2 linked regions of the Homo sapiens genome follow. The protein of the gene in region 1 interacts with the protein of each later gene in a biochemical or structural test. Each region holds a gene or a part of one and is shown on either strand. Other genes may lie near its edges. The genes, in order: IBTK and PDCD4.

What was found.
Region 2: the proteins of IBTK (region 1) and PDCD4 form a complex in vitro, tested with the Homo sapiens proteins (one study listed by BioGRID).

What each region holds. Positions count from the first base shown.
Region 1 is NC_000006.12:82,193,503-82,206,401, reverse strand, and holds part of IBTK (inhibitor of Bruton tyrosine kinase), read left to right. Parts: intron 1-1,443; coding exon 1,444-1,545; intron 1,546-3,756; coding exon 3,757-3,874; intron 3,875-4,919; coding exon 4,920-4,980; intron 4,981-5,693; coding exon 5,694-5,815; intron 5,816-6,148; coding exon 6,149-6,261; intron 6,262-9,955; coding exon 9,956-10,104; intron 10,105-11,759; coding exon 11,760-11,923; intron 11,924-12,899. UniProt on the Homo sapiens protein: Acts as an inhibitor of BTK tyrosine kinase activity, thereby playing a role in B-cell development. Down-regulates BTK kinase activity, leading to interference with BTK-mediated calcium mobilization and NF-kappa-B-driven transcription.
Region 2 is NC_000010.11:110,878,650-110,891,548, forward strand, and holds part of PDCD4 (programmed cell death protein 4), read left to right. Parts: intron 1-2,583; coding exon 2,584-2,886; intron 2,887-4,353; coding exon 4,354-4,448; intron 4,449-6,603; coding exon 6,604-6,717; intron 6,718-9,015; coding exon 9,016-9,237; intron 9,238-10,883; coding exon 10,884-10,981; intron 10,982-11,906; coding exon 11,907-12,021; intron 12,022-12,899. UniProt on the Homo sapiens protein: Inhibits translation initiation and cap-dependent translation. May excert its function by hindering the interaction between EIF4A1 and EIF4G. Inhibits the helicase activity of EIF4A. Modulates the activation of JUN kinase.

The sequences.
Region 1 (12,899 bases):
TTATTGCTAATTGTTTGCCCCCGTATAAAAGGCTGTTGTCACTGGGCAAGCTTTATGTCAGGTCAAATAAAGATAAGCATTCTAGTGGGATTTTCAGAGAACTAGCAGACAGGTCAAATAAGGATACTATTGCTCTACAACTGTTCTGTCTCCTGTGGCTACTAGGCTGTCAATGTGATTCCCTGTGATTATGGAGCTGTTGGTTTCAGTACTGCTGTGGAGGAGGGGAGAGGAAGATCTGAACAGGAAAGGCTGCAGTGTCCTGAATCCCACTGTTCTTAACAAGATTCAACTGCTTTTCTTAAGTAAACACTTCCTAGATTATTATAAGCTTTTGGCTGATTTCCAGAATTCTGGAAAAGTTGATTATGACAATTTTCCACAGTTGTCTGTTTTTTTTTAGAGGAGAGGATTAGAAGCTCTTAGTCTGTCATTCCTAGTGACTTCATCTTTGTCTCATATTTTAAAGCTGTTTTCTGTGTCAGATTTTTTTCTTCTTAATCTTTTTTTCCCTTTCCTCTCTTCCTCTGTTATTTTTTTCTTTCAATTTATGTTGTTATTTTGGCAGTGGCTCAGGGGCAAAAAGCCATTAGTAGTACTGAGGACCAAGAAAGTTGTTTTATTTTTTATTTTTTTGAGATGGAGTCTCACTCTGTTGCCCAGGCTGGAGTGCAGTGGCGTGATCTCGTCTCATTGCAACCTCTGCCTCCCATGTTCAAGCAATTCTCGTGCCTCAGCCTCCCCGGTAACTGGGACTACAGGCATGTGCCACCACGCCCTGCTAATGTGTGTATTTTTAGTAGAGATATGTTCACCATGTTGGCCAGGCTGGTCTCAAACTCCTGGTCTTAAGTGGTCGGTCTGCCTCCACCTCCCATAGTGCTGGGATTACAGGCGTGAGCCACCACACCTGGCCCAAGAAAGTTGTTTTAAATTAAGGAAGTCCAATAGTTACAAAAAAGCACTCTTAGATGACAAATTTTGTTTTAAATAAGAAAGCATAAGAGCATTATTTCCCCACCCTTTATATATTAAGTGTGATGCTGAGATTTGACTTTTCCCTCTTTGTATTAGCTTGAGAAGTGTTTTTCTAACAACATGGGAGATTATAAACAAGTCAGGCATTCTAGTGGGCTTCTAGACTGAAATGATCAATTTAAGTTGGCCATTTTATGGTCCTAGTGTGAGATCAAGACATTTTGGTGTAATTTTGTCAGCTTTCTACCTAAAAAATAGAAATATATTTTGATGTATTTACTTTTTATTATGGTTGCCCTTTCAACATTTAGAAAATAATCTTAAATCTCTTTTCTAGTGTACTAATTACTTCAAATTTTTTTTTTACTTAAATCTCTTTTCTAGTGTACTAATTACTTCAAATTTTTTTTTCTAGGTATAATGTATACAAAGAAAAAGTGATGCTTGTTTTCTTTCTTTTTTTAGAATCTCAAAATGTAGATTTTATTTGTAGTGTTCTTGTGGTGGCTGATCAACTTCTCATAACCCGGTTGAAAGAGATTTGTGAAGTAGCATTAACTGAAAAACGTGAGTAATTTTGAGTTTGAATATTAATATGTTTTCAGGTTCATCAAGGATTACTGTACTTTATTGACTTTATGATTCCACTTATGGTAAAATAGACCATTTTTTTGGTACCACGAAAACCTGCCAAAATATGTAAATTATTACATGCCATCATTTGTAAGTGAATTCTTATTTTAGAAATATGTGAAAATATATATGACTTAGAATTGAAATGTAATATTTGTATTGAAATGTCATAAAACCTTGAAGAATAAAGATGGTGTCAGATTTATTTGCTAATTTCAAGGGTGAGAGTTTAAAAGTGAAATTTTTGTACTCTTGCCCTGATCTTGGCTTTAGGTGTTTTTAGCTACCCATTTTCTACTATTTGCAGTGATTTTAAAAATTTAACTTTCCCATTATATATCTGAACAAAGCACATCTCTTTTTTTCTTGAACTCTTCTTTCTTGCTCTCTTCATTATCTTAGTTAATTTCATGGCTATCCTCCTGAACACTGTACTTTGAAATCCAAAATGAGTTTTTCTTTATTATTTTGGCCCTGACACTCAAATTCATTCAGTTGTCAAAACTTATTCCTTTTAACTATGTTGGTCACATTTCCCCTACCTTTGGGTTCTCACTGTTACTATGCAGTTGAGGTCACTGTTATCTGTTCCTTCTGGGTAGTGTCACAGTAGTGTTTTAAATGCTCTTTCTCCTGTCTACTTCTGTTTCTTTAAGCTTTCTGTAGGAAGTAGTTACATCTTCCCCCTGTTTACATATTTATAATTGCTTACTCTAGAATAAAGGTTAACTTTCCTTAGCTTCCACCTGACAGCCTTTTTGACTTTCTAATCTTATATCTGTTCTGCTTTACTGCTACTTCAAGAAGTGTGAAGGGAATTCCTGTCCATTTTTTCTAGTTCATACTTGCTAGGAGTTTGTCTTGGCTTTGGCATTTTAGTTCTCACTTTTCTTGAGCACTGTAGACTGTCTACTCCTTGGTTATTAAATAGAGAACAACAGCCCTGATCTCCTTTTAAGCAAGAAAAGAAAAATATTCTAAAATAAAGGACACAGCATACAACAGGTATAAGACATACATATAAGTGATATTTTACACTTGTACAGTTGCCTTTGCTGGTCTTCTTCCTCAGTGTTCTTTCATGGCTCTGGCTGCACAGTTGCCTTTATTAATTCCTTGATGTTCCTAGAACCTAGGAAAAGGAGGCTACCACCTCCTTTGGTCTCTGATTATTAGGAATATGTGGATACTTGTTCCCATGTGAACAACTCTAAAGAAGTTTTTATATGATCTAATTTTATCATTTCTTCAATTTCTCTGTTCATCATTAGTTGAAAATGTAGATTAGTCAGGAGTGAGACAGAGACCATTATTGACTGCAGTTGCAACTTTTGATAGAATCACAGGTGAGAAAGAAAAAGAAATGCAAGAAGCCAGATGTAGAAAACAACTGTGTTTCCCTATTGGCTGGTACTGATAGAGTAATTAAGAAAAATAGTGGAGGGAACAGGAAGCTGAAAGTTACCTGTTATGTAGGTAGAATATTCTGGGAGAGTCTCTAGGAAAATGGGTACTTTATATATAATGTTACTACAATTGTAACTAAATCCAGAATCTTTTGCACAGTATATCAGATTTTTCACTGGTGTGAAGAATATTATGATAAGATTGTGATGTACGTATTTTCAAAATATGTATATATTTATATACTTACATGTATATATATACACCCACATGAATTCTGATAGATAACTCAATATATTTTATAGAATTATTTCATCAGTTTTTCTTAGTTTTATATCTTTTTTAGTTTTATGGAAGAGGGAATAACTGCTATGTAAATGGAAAGGAAAGTTGTTCATTAATAAAAGCTTTTTAAAAATATTCAGAAAATGTTAGGTGGAAGATTGTCAGTTCTTATGTGTTTGCTTTTGGGTGGCACTATGCCCCTTCTGTATTCTGTTTTGCTTAGAATATGCTTGTGTGTGAGCTTATTTTTCCTCATAGCCAATCTTTTGAAATTACTTTGGCATATTGGGATGGAAGAGTTACATATTTGCCCCAGTATTAACTTATTTTTGGCAAGAAACTTTTTTTTCTTTATTCCAAATGTTCAAATCGTACAGCTTTAGACATAAATGTATTTTATTTTGCTGTGGTAATGTGCCTTTTATCTAATTTTGCAAATCTTTTCTTTCTTTGTAGTTACCCTGAAGAATGCTGCTATGCTACTGGAATTTGCAGCAATGTATAGTGCAAAACAGTTGAAACTGTCTTGTTTACAGTTTATAGGATTGAATATGGCAGCTTTACTTGAAGCAAGGTAGGTGAGGTGCATATGTTGTAAGATTGTTGCAAAAGGAGATATTTATATATAATAGCAGATATTATTAGTGATTTAAATGTGAATAATGATGTTTACCTGGATGGAAAGAATTTGATCAATGCTGATGATTTAGAAGTTATGTACATTTTAGAATTAGAGAGCTCTTGAAAACTTTTGAATGTTTTTAACAGTGATCTTTTTAAAATGAAATAAATGTATACTTTTTTAAAAATATAAGGTCAAAATATTTTACTTCCTATAAAGTCATTGGTGACAATATGAGAACACAGAAATTTGAGATTAGAGTTCCTGGTGTCAGTTTTTATTTTAAAGCTTCATTGTTTAGTTTATTTTTATATTTTACTTCAGTAGTAATGACTATTAACTATGTGCTAGACGGTGTTCTAAAAGCATTACATAGATTCATTTAGTTAATTTTTATGAAACTCTTATGAAGTAGAGAAGATTCTTTGTACATTTATTTATAATAGTTGCTTGAGGCCGGGTGTGGTGGCTTATGCTTGTAATCCCAGCACTTTGGGAGGCTGAGGCAGGTGGATCGCCTGAGGTCAGGAGTTCAAGACCGGCCTGGCCAAGATGGTGAAACCCTATCTCTAATAAAAATACAAAAATTAGCCGAGCGTGATTGTGTGTGCCTGGTAGTCTCAGCCACTTGGGAGGGTGTGAAGCAGGAGAATCACTTGAACCCAGGAGGCAGCAGTTGCAGTGAGCTGAGATTGCACCACTGCACTCCAGCCTGGGTGACAGAGTGAGACTCCATCTCAAAAAAAGAAAAAAAAAAAGAGTTGCTTGAGTTTTATTCAAGATATTTGTGTAATATGTTTGCTTTGCTGTTTATTTGAAATATGTAATATACAACCACATCTATTTCCAAAAGGAATTTGTAGCAACTGCTATATATAATGCTTAAAAAATAACTTTGTTACTTATCTAGCAATATGAAATATCTACGTATGTAAGCAACTTGACAGTTATCAAGTCACTTGAATCTTAAGATAGAATTTTGTATCCTATATTTTAGGTCTCTTGATGTTTTAAGCGATGGTGTTTTGAAGGATCTTTCTGAGTTTTACCGGAAAATGGTAAGGTTTATGTTTTAAGATTTTCGCGGCTATAATATTACCAGCTTAAGCAGTATATTAGATCAGACTTATTAATGGAATAGTTTCCTAATGACTTCTAGTACATTAGGATCTTTTAAAACTGATGATATAGGATTCCTTTACAGATCTCACAGATACATATGATAATCAGAATTCAAGATACTTAATAATAAAGTTAATATTTATTAATTTCTTTATAAATGAAAGTTACTGAAAGCCTCAGAGTAAGTCTTTTGTTATTTACCAGAGGTCAGGACCGTGCAAAAACATGAATTCATATGATCCCTAAGAAATGAATAAATCTATCTTTAATAATAAAGTGGAGCTTTTTCTCAAGTTTCCTTTTTGGCAGGTTTATGGAATAAAGTTTTTATTGAATTGAATCAAAATTTAACCCCCTCTTGTAAATTTAGGAAGTTATTGAGTATTCAAGGCTGTTCTAGTTAATGTCACCACATATTAAAAATGGAATATCTTACATAATTTAAAAAACATCTTTAGGCTGGGTGTGGTGGCTTATGCCTGTAATCCTAGCATTTTGGGAGGCCAAGATGGGAGGTTTGCTTGGGGCCAGGTGTTCCAAACAGCCTGGCCAACATGGCAAGAGCCACGTGTGCACAAAAAAAAAAAAAAAAAAAAAAAAAAAACTTCACAGATTTTGTATTTGAAAAGTGATATCTTCAATTCTGCAGATTCCAGCAATGGATAGAAGAGTCATTACACCATATCAAGATGGACCAGATATTAGCTATTTGGAAGTAGAAGATGGAGATATCTTCTTGAAAGAAGAAATAAATATGGAACAAAATCATTCGTAAGCTGTTTTCTTTTTTTTTTTTCTTTTCCTCCTTTTCTTCCTTCTTTTCTCCAGTGTGTCCCTTCACTCTCATCTTGGACATATGACACTTTTGTGTTGGTATTGGAAGATGAAATTGAGAAATTCTGACATAAGAAATAGGTAGTTACGCTCATTCTTAACCTTGGTATAATACAAAGTAAATACATAATTAATATCTGTAGGTCTAACACATTGAAAGTGTAAATATTTTAAAAAGTAGCCTTCAGGTTAAACATGTTGGGTTAAATAAGTGCATTTATCTTAGTTACCTCCCTAAACACTGCTGAAATTATGTTTGCTTTTTCCTAGGGAAACTATGTTCAAGAAAGCAAAAACAAAAGCTAAAAAGAAGCCACGTAAACGTTCAGATAGTTCTGGAGGTTATAACCTTTCAGATATTATTCAGAGTCCATCATCTACAGGTTCGTGGAAAGTGAGCATGTATTTCCAGTTCTAATCTTCTATGTCTCTATTCACATATGTCATCTGCTGGGGCTACTGAAATAAACAGTCCTTATGGAGGTACCAAAAGTGATAGTTTATTGTAAGTACTCCAGTTGAAGTTTGCTCTGGGAGCACAAAAGAGGTACTCAAACTAATCTGAGATCAGGGAAGTCCTCTTAGAGGAAAGCAATGCTGAGCTGAGTCTTGAAGAATGAAGTTATCTAAGAAAAGGAGGCAGATAGGTATATTAAGCAAAGGGGGCAATGTGTTCCCAAGCTTAGTAGCAAGAGAAAGAGTTGCACATTTCTTGTGCATATAGTTCAGTATAGGAGATAGGTTGGATAGGGTCAGATTTTGGAGGCTCTTATATGCCAAACTAAGGAATTTGTGTTTTATTCTAAAGGCTATGGGTGGCTGTTGATGATTTAAAACAGGATGTGACTGGATGAGATTTGTTTTTAGAAAGACTACTCTTTCCAGTGGCATAGGGGTTTAGAGGTTGGCAAAACATGACAGAGATAACTATTATCATGTTGATTCAATTTAAATATGTCAGTACTCCAAGTAAGATGCCATTCATATGCATAAGGGGGTTGTAATCTGGTAGTAGAATATAAAATGTATTTAGGCATTATGTGAGCCTGTTTGAAAGTAAAGGTCAGGTTATGTAGTTTTTCTAAAATATTTTTCCCCAGTTTTTTCTTTTGAGAATATTTAACTTACTGAAAAGATGAAAGAAAAATACCATGAACACCTATGTACATTTTATTCAGATTTATTGTTAACTTCTCATCACATTTGCATTTTCTTGCAGACTCTTTGTTGCTTACTGTCTCCTCTTTCCTCCATGTGTTACACACACACACAAACACACACACACACAATACAGAGACTTAAAAAAAAATTGTTCCACTTGGAATAAGTTGTAGACATGATACTTTTCCCCCGAATACTTGAATATGAATCTTTTAAGATGGGAATACTCTTCTACACAACCACAATACCATTATCATACCTGAGACAATTGACATTAATTAGTGTTAATTAGTATTATACTTCATATCCACATTTTCCTAATTGTTGACAAATGTTTTTATAGTCTTTTTTTTTTAACATTAACAAAAAAACTAGTATTCTATCAAGGTTCATATTATCTTTGCTTATTAGTATCTCTTTAGTCTCTTCTAACTAGTATAAAACTGCTGTACTTTTTTGTTTTTTGTTTTCTCTTTTCCAAAAGGTCAGTCCAATTGTGTTATAGACTGTCTCACATTCTAGATTCATCTGATCTAGATTAAACTATATACGTTTTAGTAGTTTCTTTAGATAAAACATGAATTGTGACTATAAAATAATGAGACTACAGTATGGCTTTCAGAAATGGTAGGTTACTCTTGTCTATAGCACTAAGGCATAACCTAGTACAGTTTCTGCTAACAGTACTTCATAGTCAATCAGCTGTATACAAACAACTTTGAAAAATAGAAGAGTACATTGTTTTGTGTCCCTTTGGAAAAAAAAGCTTGTTAGGCAGGGCAAAGAAGAAGGATTTTTTTTTTATGTTTACTGAGATGCTTCAAATTAGGTGCTTGATATGTTCACTAAAGCTCAAAGGAATAATGTCAAGAATAGTTTTAGATAACATAAAGATAAAAAAAGGATAGATAATATGCCTAAAATTTATTTATGAAGCAATGAAAATAGGAATCAGGAGACCTAGTAAATGGGAAAGCTATTATCTTAGGACTTTTCTAAATTTAAAATTCTGTGACTCTGTGTTCTCTGTGTTGTATGAATTACCGTTAGTGTTTAGAAGGAGGCAGGGGTGGATTGATGGAAGGATGAATAATGGATAGACAGTCTTGAAAGTAATGACTTTCCAGTCACCTAAATGACTTATGGAAAAGCAGATATTTGGTTTGTTTTAAATAATGTTATTGTTACCATATGTGTTAGAATCTTAGAATTTCAGAGCTAGAAGAGACATTAGTAATGAAATAATTTATGTCCCTTACTTTAAACCTAAGGAAAGAAGCTCAAAAAACATAAGTGATTTGAAGTAGTGACCAAAAGAAATAAAATTTGTTCTCTTGATTCCAGGTCCGTATTTTCCTGGTGTACTGTTCTTTCTGTGGCCAGGATATCTGTAGTCAAAGATAACTAAAAGGTCAGATTTAATTGGAGGCCAAAAAGACCTGTTAAGGAAGAAAATTTGAGTATGAGGCCAATTTCATCAAAGACAGTTGCGTAAAAGCTTAACATCTGTGTCGATCTTAAAGTTAGACAAACGGCATTCAGCAAAACTGTTTTTGACCAGAAGTAATTGTTGGCCACATTAATTGTCCTCTTTTTTTCTGGATTTATTTCTAACTGACTTTTGAGAGTGTTCTAATATTAGATGTATTCTCTTCGATGAAAATTTGCCAGCCTTAAAAATATTCAAAAAGAGGCAAGACGCAGTGGCTCCTGCCTGTAATCCCAGCACTTTGGGAGGCCAAGGCGGGCGGACCACAAAATCAGGAGCTCCAGACCAGCCTGGCCAATATGGTGAAACGCTGTCTCTAGTAAAAATACAAAAAAAATTAGCCGGGCATGGTGGTGCATGCCTGTAATCCTAGCTACTTGGAAGGCTGAGGCAGGAGAAACACTTGAACCTGGAGGTGGAGGTTGCAGTGAGCTGAGATCATGCCACCGCACTCCAGCCTGGGCAATAGAGTAAGACTCTGTCTCAAAAAAAAAAAAAAATTCAAAAAGATTGTGTGGCAAAAAAAATGTTTAAATGTTCTTTCCAAATTGTAGTGATAACAATAAAAGAAACATTTAGCTTGTTAAGGTGATTTACTTTAAAGAGAACAATGTATAAGAGATGGTAGGTTTTATTTTTAAATCAATTATACAGCTTTTAGTTACAAGTTAGATAACATCTTTATTTTATAGCTTATTTTGGTACTTCATTTAGATTCTAATAAATTTGAAATGTGTGGAAATGGACATGTGAATCTAAGCAAAAGTTTGAACCTGGATACCAGGTGTGGCATGAGGCCAGGCATTTAGCTTGCCTAAGAGAAGAAATGATATATACATTTCACAACAACCCTCTTGCTTCAAGCGAGCTCTCAATAGCCAGAGATTTCAGGGAAAAACACACTTCAAACAGGCCACAGTTGTCTTCTGCGGGAGCCTCTGCTATGGGGTCAGTCAGCTGGCTAAGTGAGAGGCAAAAAGGCCACAGGGTTCCTCCCACATAGAATGAAGCTACCCCCTTGCTTGGGTGCGGAGACCACTGTACCAAGAGACAGATGAGAAAGGGAAAAGAGGTCTGGATTTTAATTATTTTCCCTTTCTCCTTTGTCTCTTATGCGGACAAAAATATTTTAAATCACTTTTTAGAGCAGATCCCAAAGAACTATCTTCCTCAGGTTCATTACACAATTGGTGTGTGATTGTAATGAATAAAATTATTGTTTTAGAATCTCTTCCATTTCAGTTTTTCACTTAAACTGATTTCTTTCTCCAGTTAACTTGAATTATTAAGATTTTTATACCATAAATATAATTTGAATGTTATTAAATCTGGATAAATGAAAGCTTTTTTAGCTCTCTGGTTCATGGAATGTAATGCATATATGTTTAATGCATATGTGTTTAATTTTTTTTAATTTCATGTTTTAGGATTATTAAAGTCTGGTAAGACCAATTCTGTGGAATCTCTTCCAGAACTGTTGACATCAGACTCTGAAGGAAGCTATGCAGGAGTGGGTAGTCCTAGAGATTTACAGTCCCCTGATTTCACAACAGGATTTCATTCAGATAAGATTGAGGTTTGTTTTTTGAAGCACTACCTCCTTACCTTCAGATTTTAGATTTATAGATGGTTTATCTTTAATATTTCCTTATTTTTGCCCTAATTTTAAAACAGTTTCCAGGTTGGTATATAAGAATCACAAATATAGTGTTAGTTTTCTTAAATTTGCACAACATTTCTATTTTTAGAGATTGTAATGGCAGTTTTGAGCCCTTTATGATGTTATTTCTAGTCTTTGTGCAACTAAAATATAATGTTGATGTAAAATATAATAACACTATAGACATGTTGAAAAAATATATTTGTAGCTAAATTATTGAAATTTATCTTGTGAAATGTCAGTTAACATCAGTTAAAAATTGTCAAGGCAAATGATTTCGAAAATAAGCCTACTTTGAAAGTTCGCAGTCTCTTTCCTCCAGGGTATTAACTGGAGCAAAACAATTTGGAAATGATTTGAGTTCTTCTCCTAATCTAGCACATTAAGCTGCAGGATTCCTAGCCTAATCAGCTCTGGGGAGGGCATTTCTTAGACACTCCTTAACATTTGATTCCATAGCTGTTAACCTATTAGAGAAAAATGTGTAACTGAATAGAGATAGAGTCACTTTTCTGTAACTCCTACACATCCACAAAACGTATCGGAACTTCTAGGAATTCATAAGACAACAGAAGTTTACCCTTTCTTCTTAGAGTCTTTTAGGCCTCAAGGATTGATTTGATTTTTTTTTTTGAGACAGGGTCTCTCACTCTGGTTGCCTAGGCTGGAGTGCAGTGGTATAGTATCAGCTCACTGCAGCTTTGATTTCCCGGGCTTAGGTGATTCTCCCACCTAAGCCGGCAGAGTAACTGGGATTATAAGCACGCACCATCACGTCCAGCTAATTTTTTTATATTTTTAGTAGAGATGGGGTTTTGCCGTGTTGCTCAGGCTGGTCTCGAACTCCTGGACTCAAGCAATCCACCCACTTCAGCCTCCTAGAGTCCTGGCATTACAGATGTGAGCAACCACACCCCGCCAGGATTGATTTTTTTTAAAATATAGGATAGAAGTTTGGGGGCAATTTATATTCACACTAAGGTTGGTCTGTAAGACAATTGAGGTTTAAAGGAAGGCTCAGGGTATATTGTGAGTGATTTACAATAACAGAAGAATCTATCCTGGAAATAGACATATCATTTTAATAACTTCCTTGACATATTACAATAGCAGTAGTTTTAGGGTTCCTTTCAAGGTGTCAGTATTATTTGACTTTAATTTTATTCACAGTACTTTACATCAGAGTGAATTATATGACATTTATACAAAACTTTCATTTTGTTTCATATTCAAGCCATGGATATTAATTTTAAAATTACTGCTTCATGTCTTATTTGTACAACTTTTATATATTACATGTTAACTATTTGTGTAGAGATTTAATATGCAAACTAGTTTCCCTAAAAATTATTTTCAAAGCTCATAATAATTCAGTTATAGTCAATAATGTGATTTGAGAGTTGGCTAAGGCACAAAACTGTAGAAGAACATGATTTGAAAATACTAGATGGCTTATTGTCATAAGATTTTATTCTTCATTATAATGTAACTAATATTTATTAAGTACCAGCTATGTGTTAGTTACTGTTCTAGGTGCCTGTTAACTTTTTTTATTTTTTTTCTCTCCCCAGGCGAAAGTCAAACCGTATGTTAATGGTACATCTCCTGTGTATTCTAGGGAAGATTTAAAACCATGGGAAAAGTCACCAATACTTAAAATATCTGCTCCACAGCCTATTCCCAGTAACAGAATTGATACTACCAGCTCTGCCAGTTGGGTTGCTGGTTCTTTCAGGTAGGATTTTTATTTTATTCTATAACTGTTAGTTTGAGAAATGTCATTCATTTTTAATGCAATTTAATTTTTTAATGATGAACATTTAAGAAATATTAATATAAATTTCTAATGCACAGAAAATTGCCTAAATACCTACAAATTGCTAACCAGCTATAATAGGCTTCCCCCCCAACCAACCCCAGGCAAAATTTAGTTGCCTTTGTATTATCATCAGTGAATAGTAGCAAATACTATGTTTTACGTATATAGAGAGAAACTTAGTATCAGTAGTTATTTCTTAGATAATATGTATTGGTTAAAAATGCTGCACAGGAAGACAATTTTGTCAATCATAGACTTTATCTCTTAGAGCATGTGAAGGGGTATTTAAAATTTCACAAAATGTGTAACTATTCAGTTAATTTTCAGAGGATATTAATTTAATGTTATACTATCCTTTTAACTTGCCTATATTATATATATATTTTTTCATTTATTTAGAAAAGTCAAATGAAGGCTGGGCATGGTGGCTCATGCCTGTAATCCTAGCACTTTGGGAGGCTGAGGTGGGTGGATTACCTGAGCTCAGGAGTTCGACACTAGCCTGGGCAACATGGTGAAACCCCATCTCTACTAAAATACAAAAAATTAGCCAGGCGTGGTGGTACGCACTTGTAATCCGAGCTACTTGGGAGGCTGAGGTGGGAGAATCGTTTGAACCCGGGAGGCGGAGGTTACAGTGAGCCCAGATCGCGCCACTGCACTCCAGCCTGGGCAACAGAGCAAGACTCCATCTCAAAAAAAAGAAAAAGAAAAGTTAAATGAGTAGCAGATGTAATTAGAATGTAGTATTCTTTCAAAATGTTAATTAAGCTTGTGCTTCATGTTTATATGCCTACAATGGTTGATAAAGTCTAAAACTGTTAATTGACATATTATCATCTGGACTGTTTAATTCTTTTGAAATAGGCTATATTTTGCAGAGTTGGAACAA
Region 2 (12,899 bases), on another chromosome or scaffold:
CTAGTTTTGTATTTTCTGTAGTTATATGGGATTAAAAATGTGGGTTTGAATTCTAGCCATAATCCTTTCTAGATATGTAACTTCTTGTGAAACACATTCCTTCTGTAAAATGAGGATAAACAGTTTCTTTCTAGAGCTCTTGAAGCTTATAGACCACATATGTAAAGTGCCTTAGCTAATAGGTACCAGGTAGTGTGGAATCTAATAGGTACCAGGTAGTGTGGAACCTGGTATCTAATAGATGACAATAGTAATGGTAATGATGAAAGAAACAGTACTACGACTACTTCCACTAAGACTATAATTACTACTGATGGTTATGATGATGTCCCAAACACACCATCCTAACACCGGCTTCTTACCAGTTTGAAAACTTTTAAGGCATTGTTTGACTTCTCTTTAATCCTAGATACATTCTGCTTAAAAGTCCTTCATTATTTTCTTTAAAAGTGTAACATTATTATTTATCCCACAGTTACTACCCTTGCTCTTTACCAGTTAGCTTGTGACTGAATTACTGAAGCATTTTCTTAGCGGTTTCCTACTTTATACTTTCTCTTTTTGTAATATACTCAGTATTCTTCTGCCAAATGAATCCCTCCCATCTCTTCCCTATGATATCTAACTTAAGCTCTGACAATTTGAGTGTGGGAGTAGTTAGCAGTGATTCTGGTGAGGTAAGCAGGGGCAAGATCATAAAGGACCTTAAGTTACAAGGTAAAGAGTTTACATTTTGGCTGGGTGCGGTGGCTCACGCCTGTAATCCCAGCACTTTGGGAGGCCGACGTAGGTGGATCACGAGGTCAGGAGATCAAGACCATCCTGGCTAACACGGTGACCCCATCTGTACTAAAAACACAAAAAAATTAGCCAGGCGTAGTGGCAGGCATCTGTAGTCCCAGCTGGGGCAGGAGAATGGCGTGAACCCGGGAGGCAGAGCTTGCAGTGAGCTGAGATTGCACCACTGCACTCCAGCCTGGGTGACAGAGCGACACGCTGTCTCAAAAAAAAAAAAAAAAAAGTTTACATTTTTTGTGACATAATGGGACTACTTTTAAAGGATCTTCAGTGAGGGCATGCTTGAGAAAATCAGTCTTCATTCAGTATAGTTTGAAGACTGGAGGCAGGGAGACTACTTATGAGACTAGTGAAATAATTTGGCTCTAATTGATGATTTTGTTTAAAACAAAACATTCCTACCTTCCTAAGTATGTCAAGAATTGTAAAGATTTAAACACATGTATGCTTTTTATAGGTTGGTGAAAATTTTTGGTTTCAACATGTCTTAAAACATATTAAAGCCCATGCACATAGACCTGACATGTTATAATTATCTTTAGGCATATAGAAAATGATTTGAGTGATTCAGCTCTGATTTGCGTTAACAATAATGAACAAAACTGTGGCCCAGTGGTAGCTAATTCAGTAGCCTTTCTGACTTAAAGAGCTTTCAGGGCAAAGCCAAGTGCCTCCACTTGATCTCCATGGAATTTGAGTATGAAGGACACTCTGCTAGGTGATGGGGATACAAAGAAGGACATACAGTCTAGTTGTGGTTTCTCCTTTGAAGCTTATGACTTAGTTGGAAGAAAAAGACTGCTATATAAAAAGAAAGTGATTTCCATGACGTGTTGAATGAATAGTATGTGAGCAATTAGTGTTCCTGTACCTAGAGTTGTAAGGGAAGTTTTAATGCAGGGAGTAAGACTTGGGCTATATCCTAAAGGATTTTGATAACTGAAAATAACAGTGAGGGCGACATTCTACTGGGAACTCCAGTATGTTGATCTCTTTCAGAAGAATCAATTTTATATAGGCTGGAAGATTTACAGGATGGTAAGTAATAGGAGAAAAGTTTAGGGAGATGAATTAGGACTTTGAGATGTTGGCTTTTCTTGAAAGCAAACTTTGTCTTGAGGCAGTAAAGCATCAGCAGTTCAGCTCAACAATCATATGCGATTATTTGCTAAATGCCTTTCATTCTCTTTTGGATTACTAATAGTTCTTAAGTGTTTATACCTAGTTATGGGACGTTTGGCAAATCATTTAAACATTCTCAGCCTTAGTTTCCTTATCTGTCTTCAATGTTATAATAATTAACTGCCAAACTTGTGCATAAATAAATGATAGAGTGTCTAGCACAGTGCCTAATAGTAGGCATTCTATAAATATTAGTTTATCTCTCTTCTCAAGATGCTTTGTCTTTTCTTAATATCTCCAATTAGCTCATAAAAGTCTAAGGGTTTTATATTTGGTGTTGCTGTTAGCATAGATTTTATGATCTAAACGTGAAATAACATGCTTCTTTTGGTAAAAACAAACAAATTTGGTTTGTTTTTGGTAAGAAACAAACATGCTTTGTTAAAATTCAGTGCCTTGGTTTACTTTCCTTGATAATGTGAAAAGTAATCTTATTTAGTTGTTTATTAGATTGAAGTAGATGAAATTCCCAATATGTGACTGTAATTTACCTACAAAAATGGTAATGTCATGTGATTCAACCTAATCTAACTTACCACTATATCTATAAAACAGTAGATACTTAAAATACTTAGAATTTTTTTCTTCATTTTTCTCTTTAAGATCCTGATAACTTAAGTGACTCTCTCTTTTCCGGTGATGAAGAAAATGCTGGGACTGAGGAAATAAAGAATGAAATAAATGGAAATTGGATTTCAGCATCCTCCATTAACGAAGCTAGAATTAATGCCAAGGCAAAAAGGCGACTAAGGAAAAACTCATCCCGGGACTCTGGCAGAGGCGATTCGGTCAGCGACAGTGGGAGTGACGCCCTTAGAAGTGGATTAACTGTGCCAACCAGTCCAAAGGGAAGGTTGCTGGATAGGCGATCCAGATCTGGGAAAGGAAGGGGACTACCAAAGAAAGGTTGGTATATATCATGTCCAACAAATGGAAGATAAACAAGTGGAAAAAAATTGTCTGGTTCTTGTACTACACTTTCCTTGTTCTAGGAATGAGAGAGATTCAAAAAGTGAAAATGTAAGGCTTTACAGTTTGTATATATTTTTACTTAGTAATAATGTGAGAACCATCTCACTTTTTCTTTAGGTTGATGTTTTTTCTTGTTTGAGTAGATTTAATTTTCTTGAGCAGAATGTTAACGATTTATTTCCAGCAAAATATACACTGATGTTTTTCACTGTTACGAGTTTTACGTATATTCTCTAAGTTTGAAAGGAGTCAGAAATCCATCATACTTATTTAATATAATTATGTCCATTACTACTACTAATAAATATACATTTGATTGATAACGTCTAGATCTGAATTTTAATGTTTTCCTAGATCTCACGGTGAGTTCTCTTTAGCTCTTTATTTTGGGTTCTGTAGTAGATTGGTCTGTTTCACTGCTGTTTCTCTAGTACCCGAAATAGTGACTAGTACACTGTAGGCAAATATTTGTTGAATAAGAGTTTTCTGACGATTTCATCACCTTCTGAATGGTGGGAACTTCAATTTATAGCCTAGGTTTCTTGTAAAATGTTTTTGTGATCTGTCAAAAATTAGTTTTGTTAAATGCCTCTGCAATCATGTTTTATATCAAAATGAAACCTGGTTGTCAGATTCTGTTTTGGTCTGATGGCAAGGATATACTTGGTACAAAATAAAAACCTCCAAAAACAGAAATGTTGGTGACATTGTAAAGGTTCTTTAAAAAATAGTGTAGTACATTAGTCCTTAAAACATTTCAGTAAGTTGATGTAGAAAAGCAACTTTGAAAATTGGAATTGTTAAGCTTCTTTTGGTTGTTTTGTATTTAGAAAACAGAATTTTCAGGGCTGTTAATGCTTAAAAGCAGTTAGAATTCTTTTCTATATTTATAACATATTGCTAGTTGTATGGTTTAATGTGTACTTTAATATTTAAAGAGTACTGTATTTGACCTTAAAATATTTGATGGTGGTTACTGTCCTTTTTTGTTAAATAATTTTTCCCTTGTTGAGTTTTCTATGCTAAGCTTTACCGGCCCAGAATGTTTCTTTTTGTCTTAGTCTCAAAGAAATGTCGAATAAAATTTAGAGCTCAGCTGCAATATCATCTCCTTTGAGGTCCTCAATATAGCTATTTTTTTATCTTTATTTGTTTTTGCTTTTATTTTAAAGCATCTGCTTTTTTAGTTTTTAACTTCATAAGCTATTTTAACTTAATGTTTTTGGAAATATTGAAAGAGTGGTCTGAACAAAAACCAGTAGGGGAAGAAAACTGGAAAAAAACTAACACGTTAAATACAATTTTTTTTTAGCTGTTGTTTAACATCGGAACATTTTATTTTAGATTTCAACAAATTGATGAATTTTGTGTTTTTTCTTTCTCAATGCTAAACTTTTTCAGGTGGTGCAGGAGGCAAAGGTGTCTGGGGTACACCTGGACAGGTGTATGATGTGGAGGAGGTGGATGTGAAAGATCCTAACTATGATGATGACCAGGTATCAGTGCTTTGCTTTTTCATAATATTTAAAATGTTTATGAACTTTTTTGACTTCATGTTTGTAGTTTACTCATACATGTGTCAAATCATATGTATAAATGTTTTGGATTAGGAAACCAAGTAAACTGACAGTAATACATGCATAACTTTCACTTGGTTTCTGTAGTGAGTCAAAAATAGCTCTTTAGAAATTCACTTAGGATTATTAAGTTGTCCATTTTTCAGTAAATTCTGTTAATATAGTTTGTTTCTATAGTAATGATAATTGAGAATATCTTCTTTTGAATATTATGAGTTACAGATATTAGATTCCTTTTAAATATTACTGTTTAGAATGGTAACTATATAATACATTTTGTTTTGGGGACATGCGCATCTTTCTTTTAGGGATAATGCTGAAAATGTAAATTTTTAATAGATTGTGAAGTGAATTTTTTATTTTTTTTAATGGAAAAAATTTAAAGTAGAATAGTATAATCTGCTTGTACTCCTCTCTTAGCTTTACAAACTTAAATAATTACAAACTCATAGGCAGTCTTGTTTAATTCCATTTACTCTCCGTCTTCTATTGGCCCCTTTGCCCCACCCTGTTTTGGATTATTTTGAAGCAAATCCCAAATGTTTTGATTATGTTTTTTGAAAATTTGTCTTTGCACAAGGTGAGACACGGTGATGGAAATTTTAGACAGGAAAACGTTAAGAGTATGTGTTAGGTTGTTTTTATTGTGTGTTGTATGTATGTATTTAAGTGTTTTAACTAATAGATATGGAAATATTTCTAAGAGAACATGAAAAATATGAAACTAGTAGGATTCAAGTACTGTAGAATCTTTGCTAAAAATGTATTAATCTTTCAAGTATATGTTTTTAGGCTGAAGCCAGTCACAAGTTGTAAATATAGCAGTCCCCTCTTATCCGTGGTTTCACTTTCCGCAGTTTCAGTTACCCATGGTCCAATGTGGTTTGAAAATATTGAGTGGAAACTTTCAGAAGTAATTCATAAGTTTTAAATTGCATGCCATTCTGAGTAGTGTGATGAGATCTCCTGCTGTCCAGCTTCATCCACCTCATCCTGCCCAGGATGTGAGCCATTCCGTTGTCCAGCGTGTATCCGCAATGTATACACTACTCGTGCATTCGTCACATGGTAGCTGTCTAGGTTATCGGATTGAGAAAACAGTATTTATTGGGTTCGGTACTATCTGTGGTTTAAGGCATCCTCGGACGGGGCTTGGAACATACCCCTTGTAGATAAGGGGGCACTACATTTCAGAGCTTTTTTAGCATGGGGAGAGAGGAATGGTTTGATGATGGATGTTAATTTTCTTTTTGAAATTTCAATTGAACAGTGCTTTTTTCCTTAGAGATTTTTTTTCTGTCACTACAACATTGATCTTTGTGTTATACTTTTTATTATAATAATGCTAATCGTGAAGGCTTTGGTTCCTGCTTCATTTTTTTTTAAAGTGAAATTTTAATTAAAACACCATTTATGATAGGAAGCCATCATGAAACTTTTTGATTACTAAAAGATTGGTTTTGAGAGAGACATAAAAATTTTGAGAGAAAAAATTAACAGAAGACATGGGGGTTGGGAGCAAATTATGTATTTGCTGTGGTTAATGATTCTAATCTATATATTGGCTTATTGTATTCTGATTTTGTAAAAGAGCAGTGACATATAAATTCTACTATTTTTATTATGATTTATTATTATTATTTTTTAGCTTTGTTGTCCAGGCTGGAGTGCAGTGATGAATTATAGCTCACTGCAGCCTCGAACTCTTGGGCTTAAGAGATCCTTCTGCCTCAGCTTCCTGAGTAGCTAGGACTACAGGGGCAAGCTACCATGTCTGGCTAATTTTTAAAACTTTTTTGTAGAGACAGGGTCTTGCTATGTTTCCCAGGCTAGTATTGAACTCCAGGCCTCAAGTGAACCTCCCGCCTTTGCCTCCCAAAGTGTTGGGATTATAGGTATGAGTCTCCTTGCCTGGCCTAGATTCTATTTTTATATGCGATCAATGTATGTAGCATGTCTTTGTCTTGTGCTAAGTGGGGATTATTAACCACTTAGAATATAAAATTGTACAACAATTTCACTTGTTTATTTGCATTTTGTTTTTTATAACTCTTACTCCCTTTTCCCCTCAAAGGAGAACTGTGTTTATGAAACTGTAGTTTTGCCTTTGGATGAAAGGGCATTTGAGAAGACTTTAACACCAATCATACAGGAATATTTTGAGCATGGAGATACTAATGAAGTTGCGGTAGGTTTAAAGTTGCAAGTATAATTTATTTAATATAGGAGAGAAGACATCTTTTATAAGCAAAATACATCTACAATGATCTTGGGTCACTGAATAAATTTAATCATTTTCTTTTGCATAAGTGAATTTCTAAGAAATGGAATAAAATCTCATTACATTAAAACAGTTATATATTTGGGATGTGATGAGAGCTGTGTGCCATTTTGTTCTCTGAAAAATGACACAATATTTTTATAATTTTTATAATTATAATTTGTAATGTATATGAATTTATAAAATCTGTTTTTATAATTTATAAAATATAATTTTAGCAGTTTGAGGGCACTTCTAGACGCCCCCCGAAACCTCTTCAGGGATCTCAGTTAAGAATGCCTGACATAGTTTCATTTTTTTGACATTTATTTCACGTATGTTCAGAAGTAGGATAAAATCTTTTTGTACTTTGTCCAAAAAAAACCCCACAAATAATAAAGATTTGAAAAAGAATATACAGAAGCCATGAGAATAATCATGATTTGTTCATAAAGTAAATCTAGGATAAAATAAAACCATTGGTCTAGTTAGGATTATCAAATTAAAGTAATACAATTGTAACTCTTTAGAAGACTTTGATCATTTAGATTCTTAAAATTTAGACTGGACTTTTATGATTTGTCTGATACTGTGAGGTTTGATATCTTTGGATTTGTAGGATTTGAATATAAGACAAATATTTGTTCAGTGCATACCATCTGGAGGAATTTGTAATAGGTGATTCTTGCCCTTTTGAAGCCCAGTCAAGTGAAAGAAATGATATGTAAACAGATTATTAAAATACGTGAAACGTTCTGTTATAGAGGAAAAGTTTCCATGAGTCCTATGAGGGCAGGGACTGTTGAAATCTTGTTAATCTACCTAGCATAAGATCAATTGTATACTATGTATCTGTTAACTGAGTACTGTTTGGAAAGCATAAAATAGAGAGTAATAGTAGAGATGATTCTCTGCTGTCTGAAGGATGTTGAGGAGTTCGCCAGTTAAGATAGTTTTCCAGGAAAGAGGAGTATTGTGTTTGAGGGTAGTGGATTAGTTGTTAAAGTGCGGTCAAGGAAGATGAAATGCAGTCAGTGAGAAGAGATTACTAACAAGGACACCAGTTACGTGGCTGTGAAAATAGTTTTGGCACTCTCTTAGTAGTATATCATGATTTAAAGATTCTAAGAAAACTTTCATTAAAGAGGAGGGCACTCTAACTGAATTAGAACTTAGCTTCTAGAGTCAGACTGCCTTTATTCCACTTTCAGTTTGGCTACTCCAGCTGTGTGCCCTCTCTCCTTTGAGTATGATAGGTGTGATAATTTAATACTCAAAGGGCTATTTGAGTATTAAATAAGATAATATAACTAAAGAGGCTATTATAATGCCTGATACATTAGTCAATAAGTATTAGCTGCAGCTATTATATTTCTAAAAGGAAATTTTAAATTTACCCCAGAATCTTAAACCAATAATCCCATTTAAAAACAGTTGTTTAAGATCTCATTTTAAACTTGATACAAAAGTGTGAAGTGAATTTTTATTTCAAGAGAAGTCTTTGAAGAAAAGTAGAATATAAATAGCTTATGATAATCTAAAATGAATTTTTCCACAAATTCTCATAAAACAATATTTATAGTAATAATAGATTGTAAGGCAGGTTAGTTAACTCCTAATACCAATCTCAGCAATATTATGTAGTTTAATGAACTAGCCATGAGCTGCATAATGACGTTTCCATGACAGACTGCATATATACCTTTGGTCTCATATAATACTCTTTTTACTGTATCTTTTCTGTGTTTAGATAGGTAACCACTGTGTTAACAGTTGTCTACAGTATTCAGTATAGTAACATACTATACAGGTTTGTAGCCCGGGAGCAATAGGTTATACCATGTAGCCTACATGTAGGCTCTGCCATTTAGGTTTGTGTAAGTACACTCTATAATGATTGCACACTGATGAAATCACCTAAATGGTGAATTTCTCAGAATGTATCTGTGTCGTGACCCATGACAGTATTTTAAAGGTATTTCACATTTTTGAATTTAGCGATGTTAAGGCAGTTAAAGCTTGACAAAGTGGATCAATGTCTGATTTATGCACAGGGAAAGGTGTGTTTATCCTATCTTCTAAAACATGACTGGGTCTTTTGATTATTTCCAAAGAGTGAGACGTAGAGATATATAGATAAAAGCTCAATTTTTCAAAAATAAAATTTTATTGAACTATAGGTAGTGATACACTTTTAAAATGTTTTTAAATTATTTTTTTGAACAGGAAATGTTAAGAGATTTAAATCTTGGTGAAATGAAAAGTGGAGTACCAGTGTTGGCAGTATCCTTAGCATTGGAGGGGAAGGCTAGTCATAGAGAGATGACATCTAAGCTTCTTTCTGACCTTTGTGGGACAGTAATGAGCACAACTGATGTGGAAAAATCATTTGATAAATTGTTGAAAGATCTACCTGAATTAGCACTGGATACTCCTAGAGCACCACAGGTTTGTATGATTCTTCTTTTTGTTCATTCCCTCCCACTACTATATTCCTAATTGTGGAAATAATGTATACTCCTAGGAAATTTTAGTAGATGGAAGGGGATGGCCAACATTTCCTACGACACCGAAATATTCCGCTAGCATTTTGATGTATTTTTTCCTAGTTCTTTTGTTTTTTAAACATGGTCTTCATCATGCTATAAATTTAATGTTATCTTGTACTTTTCCCCTATGATCTGCATAGTTTTTAGGTAATTTTTTTTTTTTTGCCATATATATAGTCTTTGTTATATGTAGTTGTTTTATTAGCTAAGATTTTTAAAAAATGTAGGTTATGATTGAATGCTTCACTAATGTTTATTATAAGAAGTCATAAATAAGACTCTTCCCTTTTGTAGCTTTGAAAATGTGAAATTGTTGCTATTGTCAAAAGTTTTTAATCAAGGTAAAATCACTTTACTTAAAACATTAATTTAGAAATAGAATATAGGCATGTCAGTTCCTAAATGCTGTTTCTGTTAAACTTAATGACAGACAATACTCGGTATGAGATATTAAGTGGTGATTCTAATGCAGACATTTTTTCCTTTTATACCAATACACATACTTTAAGAAAATGATTACATAAGTTTATATTTATTGTAGAATTTTTGAAAAATAAAAGCCAGAAAGAAGAAAGGCCAGCAAAAACTGCTACTGGTGTTAAGTTTTCCATTCTCCTTTCTGTGGGTATATATCAATGTATGGCTTCTATAAATCCTTAATTTTTTAAAATTAAAAAAATGGAATCATACCATTATGCTATTTTATAAACTTGATTTTTCTCATACCATAAAATATGGTAAATATCTTTCCCTGTGGCCACATAGTATACCATTTTATGTGTATACCATTTAACCATACCTTTATTTTTGGACACCAATTTCCAGTTTTTATAATAAGTAATGCTGTGAACATACTTTCAACTATTTCTATACAACTTTTTTTCTCCACAAGATAAATTCCTTTGATTAGTTTTTGAGAGAACCTAGTCCTTTTTTTTTGTTTTGTTTTAAGAAGAGAGGACGTCACTTGACCTTAAATCATTCGTTTAACCCCAGCACTTTGGGAGGCCGAGGCAGGCGGATCACGAGGTCAGGAGTTCGAGACCAGCCTGGCCAAGATGGTGACACCCCGTCTCTACTAGAAATACAAAAATTAGCCAGGTGTGCGCCTGTAGTCCCAGCCACTCGGGAGGCTGAGGGAGAAGAATCACTTGAACCTGGGAGGTGGAGGTTGCAGTGAACTGAGATCGTGCCACTGCACTCCAGCCTGGGCGACAGAGCGAGACTCTGTCTCAAAAAAAAAAAAAAAAAAAAAAAATTTGATCATATGCTATGTATTCAGGCAGTGTGCAAGGTGTTAGGGATTCATTAGTGAGCAAAACAGATGTGGCCCCCACTCTGGCACTTAACTTGAAGGTTAAGATGTGGGAGTGTATGCCAGGCATAACAGGTACTACATAGGTTTTTTTTTAAAAAAAAATTCCAGCATCTTTTAGGTACTGACTGTGTACTTCAGCTAATCTTCATCATTTATGTATTTAGAAATTGTGACCTATAAAAGTTATTTAACTTTTTTTATAGCTCTTTTTTTTTTCCTTTTTACAGTTGGTGGGCCAGTTTATTGCTAGAGCTGTTGGAGATGGAATTTTATGTAATACCTATATTGATAGTTACAAAGGAACTGTAGATTGTGTGCAGGCTAGGTAAGTAAATCACTTTTCCTACTTAGAATTTCAAAATAGGGGAAAATTCTACAGGATCCTATTGAAATGACACTTGTGTTAATCAGACACTCTGTACATCTGTTTGTCACTTCTCTATATTCTCCACTGTTAAAATGGAGAGACTATTGGCATGATATACCAGGAAGAGGACAGTACTATAATGGAAAAGTTCTGGAGTTTAGCTAAATCATTAATTACCTTCATGTCAAGCCACTCTTCTTTGGGCCTCAGTTTCTTTATTTATGAAACAAAACCATTGGACAGATCTTTAAGTTCTGTTTTCAGGTTCTAGCATTGTGTAATAGTTTAATATTCTAATAAGATGGATAACCTTAAGAAGAGAGGCCTGATTTATAGTTTTATTTTGTATTTATCTACTGTAGAAATCTTAGTCAGAAAGTATCTTTTTCACTCTTGTGATTTAGTATAATTAATATGATATTTGGTATAACTAAATGTGATATTTGGGAGTTATGCTATTTGATTTTTCTTAACTTCTTGGAGACTTGGACTCAGCCATGTCTTAGTTTTCCTCAGGTCTATATATTAACTTAATTTTCTAGGGCTACTTCACATCATAGTGGAATGGTGTCCCTGGGTAGGAAGGCATGGATCTAGGTGAAAGTTAATTATATGTGAAGTGTTTCTTCTCAGTGTAGATCAGTTATTTTGTAATGTGTTTTGATTTTTCTTGAATGAGAAATGAAATAGAGCATGAGAATATTAACATGAGGATCAACTTCTTTTTGCTCCTTTTTGTTTTGAAAAAGTGTTTTGAATTTTATTTTGCTTTTATGTTATGTGAAAGATTTAGGGCATATAGGATTTTGTCAGCTTTATCCCTAATTTAGTAAACTTTAGGTATGTCCAGCTATCAAACTTAAATTTTTTTCTTTCTCTGTAGAGCTGCTCTGGATAAGGCTACCGTGCTTCTGAGTATGTCTAAAGGTGGAAAGCGTAAAGATAGTGTGTGGGGCTCTGGAGGTGGGCAGCAATCTGTCAATCACCTTGTTAAAGAGGTAATGATTGGGTATTGTTTTTAACTTAATTTATATGTATTCCTCTGAGTGAAATAAATTGTGGCTACTAGCTGGTATTTTTATGGACAAAAATTAAGTTCGGTCTTACAGCTGCAATTGGAAAATGAAATAATTTTTTTAATATGTGGCTTTATAACCTTTTATTATAAATTATATGATTAAAAAATGAGTCTGTTAAAATGGCTTTCATGAATAATTATAAGCAAGCCATCTATGAACTTCAAAGGAATGCCTGAAATCTTTTTCTTATAGTATTATTTAATAATTTTCAAATGCTGTTGAAATGAGATTTTCTGTGTTTTAGCTATTCAATAAATACGCTTTTATATGAGCAATTTAAAACTAGATAGTCTTAAATAATGAGTTATGAATTATGAGCACTAGAGCAGATCAGAGTGTTAGATTTTTGTGAGGACATTCACTACCCATATGCATGTTTTAAAAGAAAATTGATTGTAATCCCAGCACTTTGAGAGGCTGAGGCGGGTGGATTGCTTGAGGCCAGGAGTTTGAGACCAGCCTGGTCAACATGGTGAAACCCCGTTTCTACTAAAAATACATAATAATTAGCCAGGCATGGTGGTGCGCACCTGTAATCCCAGCTACTCGGGAGGCTGAGGCACCAGTATTGCTTGAACCCAGGAGGAGGAGGTTGCAGTGAGCTGAGATCACACCACTGCACTCCAGCATGGGTGACAGAGCAAGACTCTGTCTCAAAAAAAAAAAAAAAAAAAAGCGATTTATTGCATTAAAATGCCAGATTTATTCCCTATGGATTTTTTTTTTTTCTGGCTGCAATGTGGTGTCCTATAACAAGAAACCAAAAAACAGAAAAAACTCCTTATCTGCAGATCTCT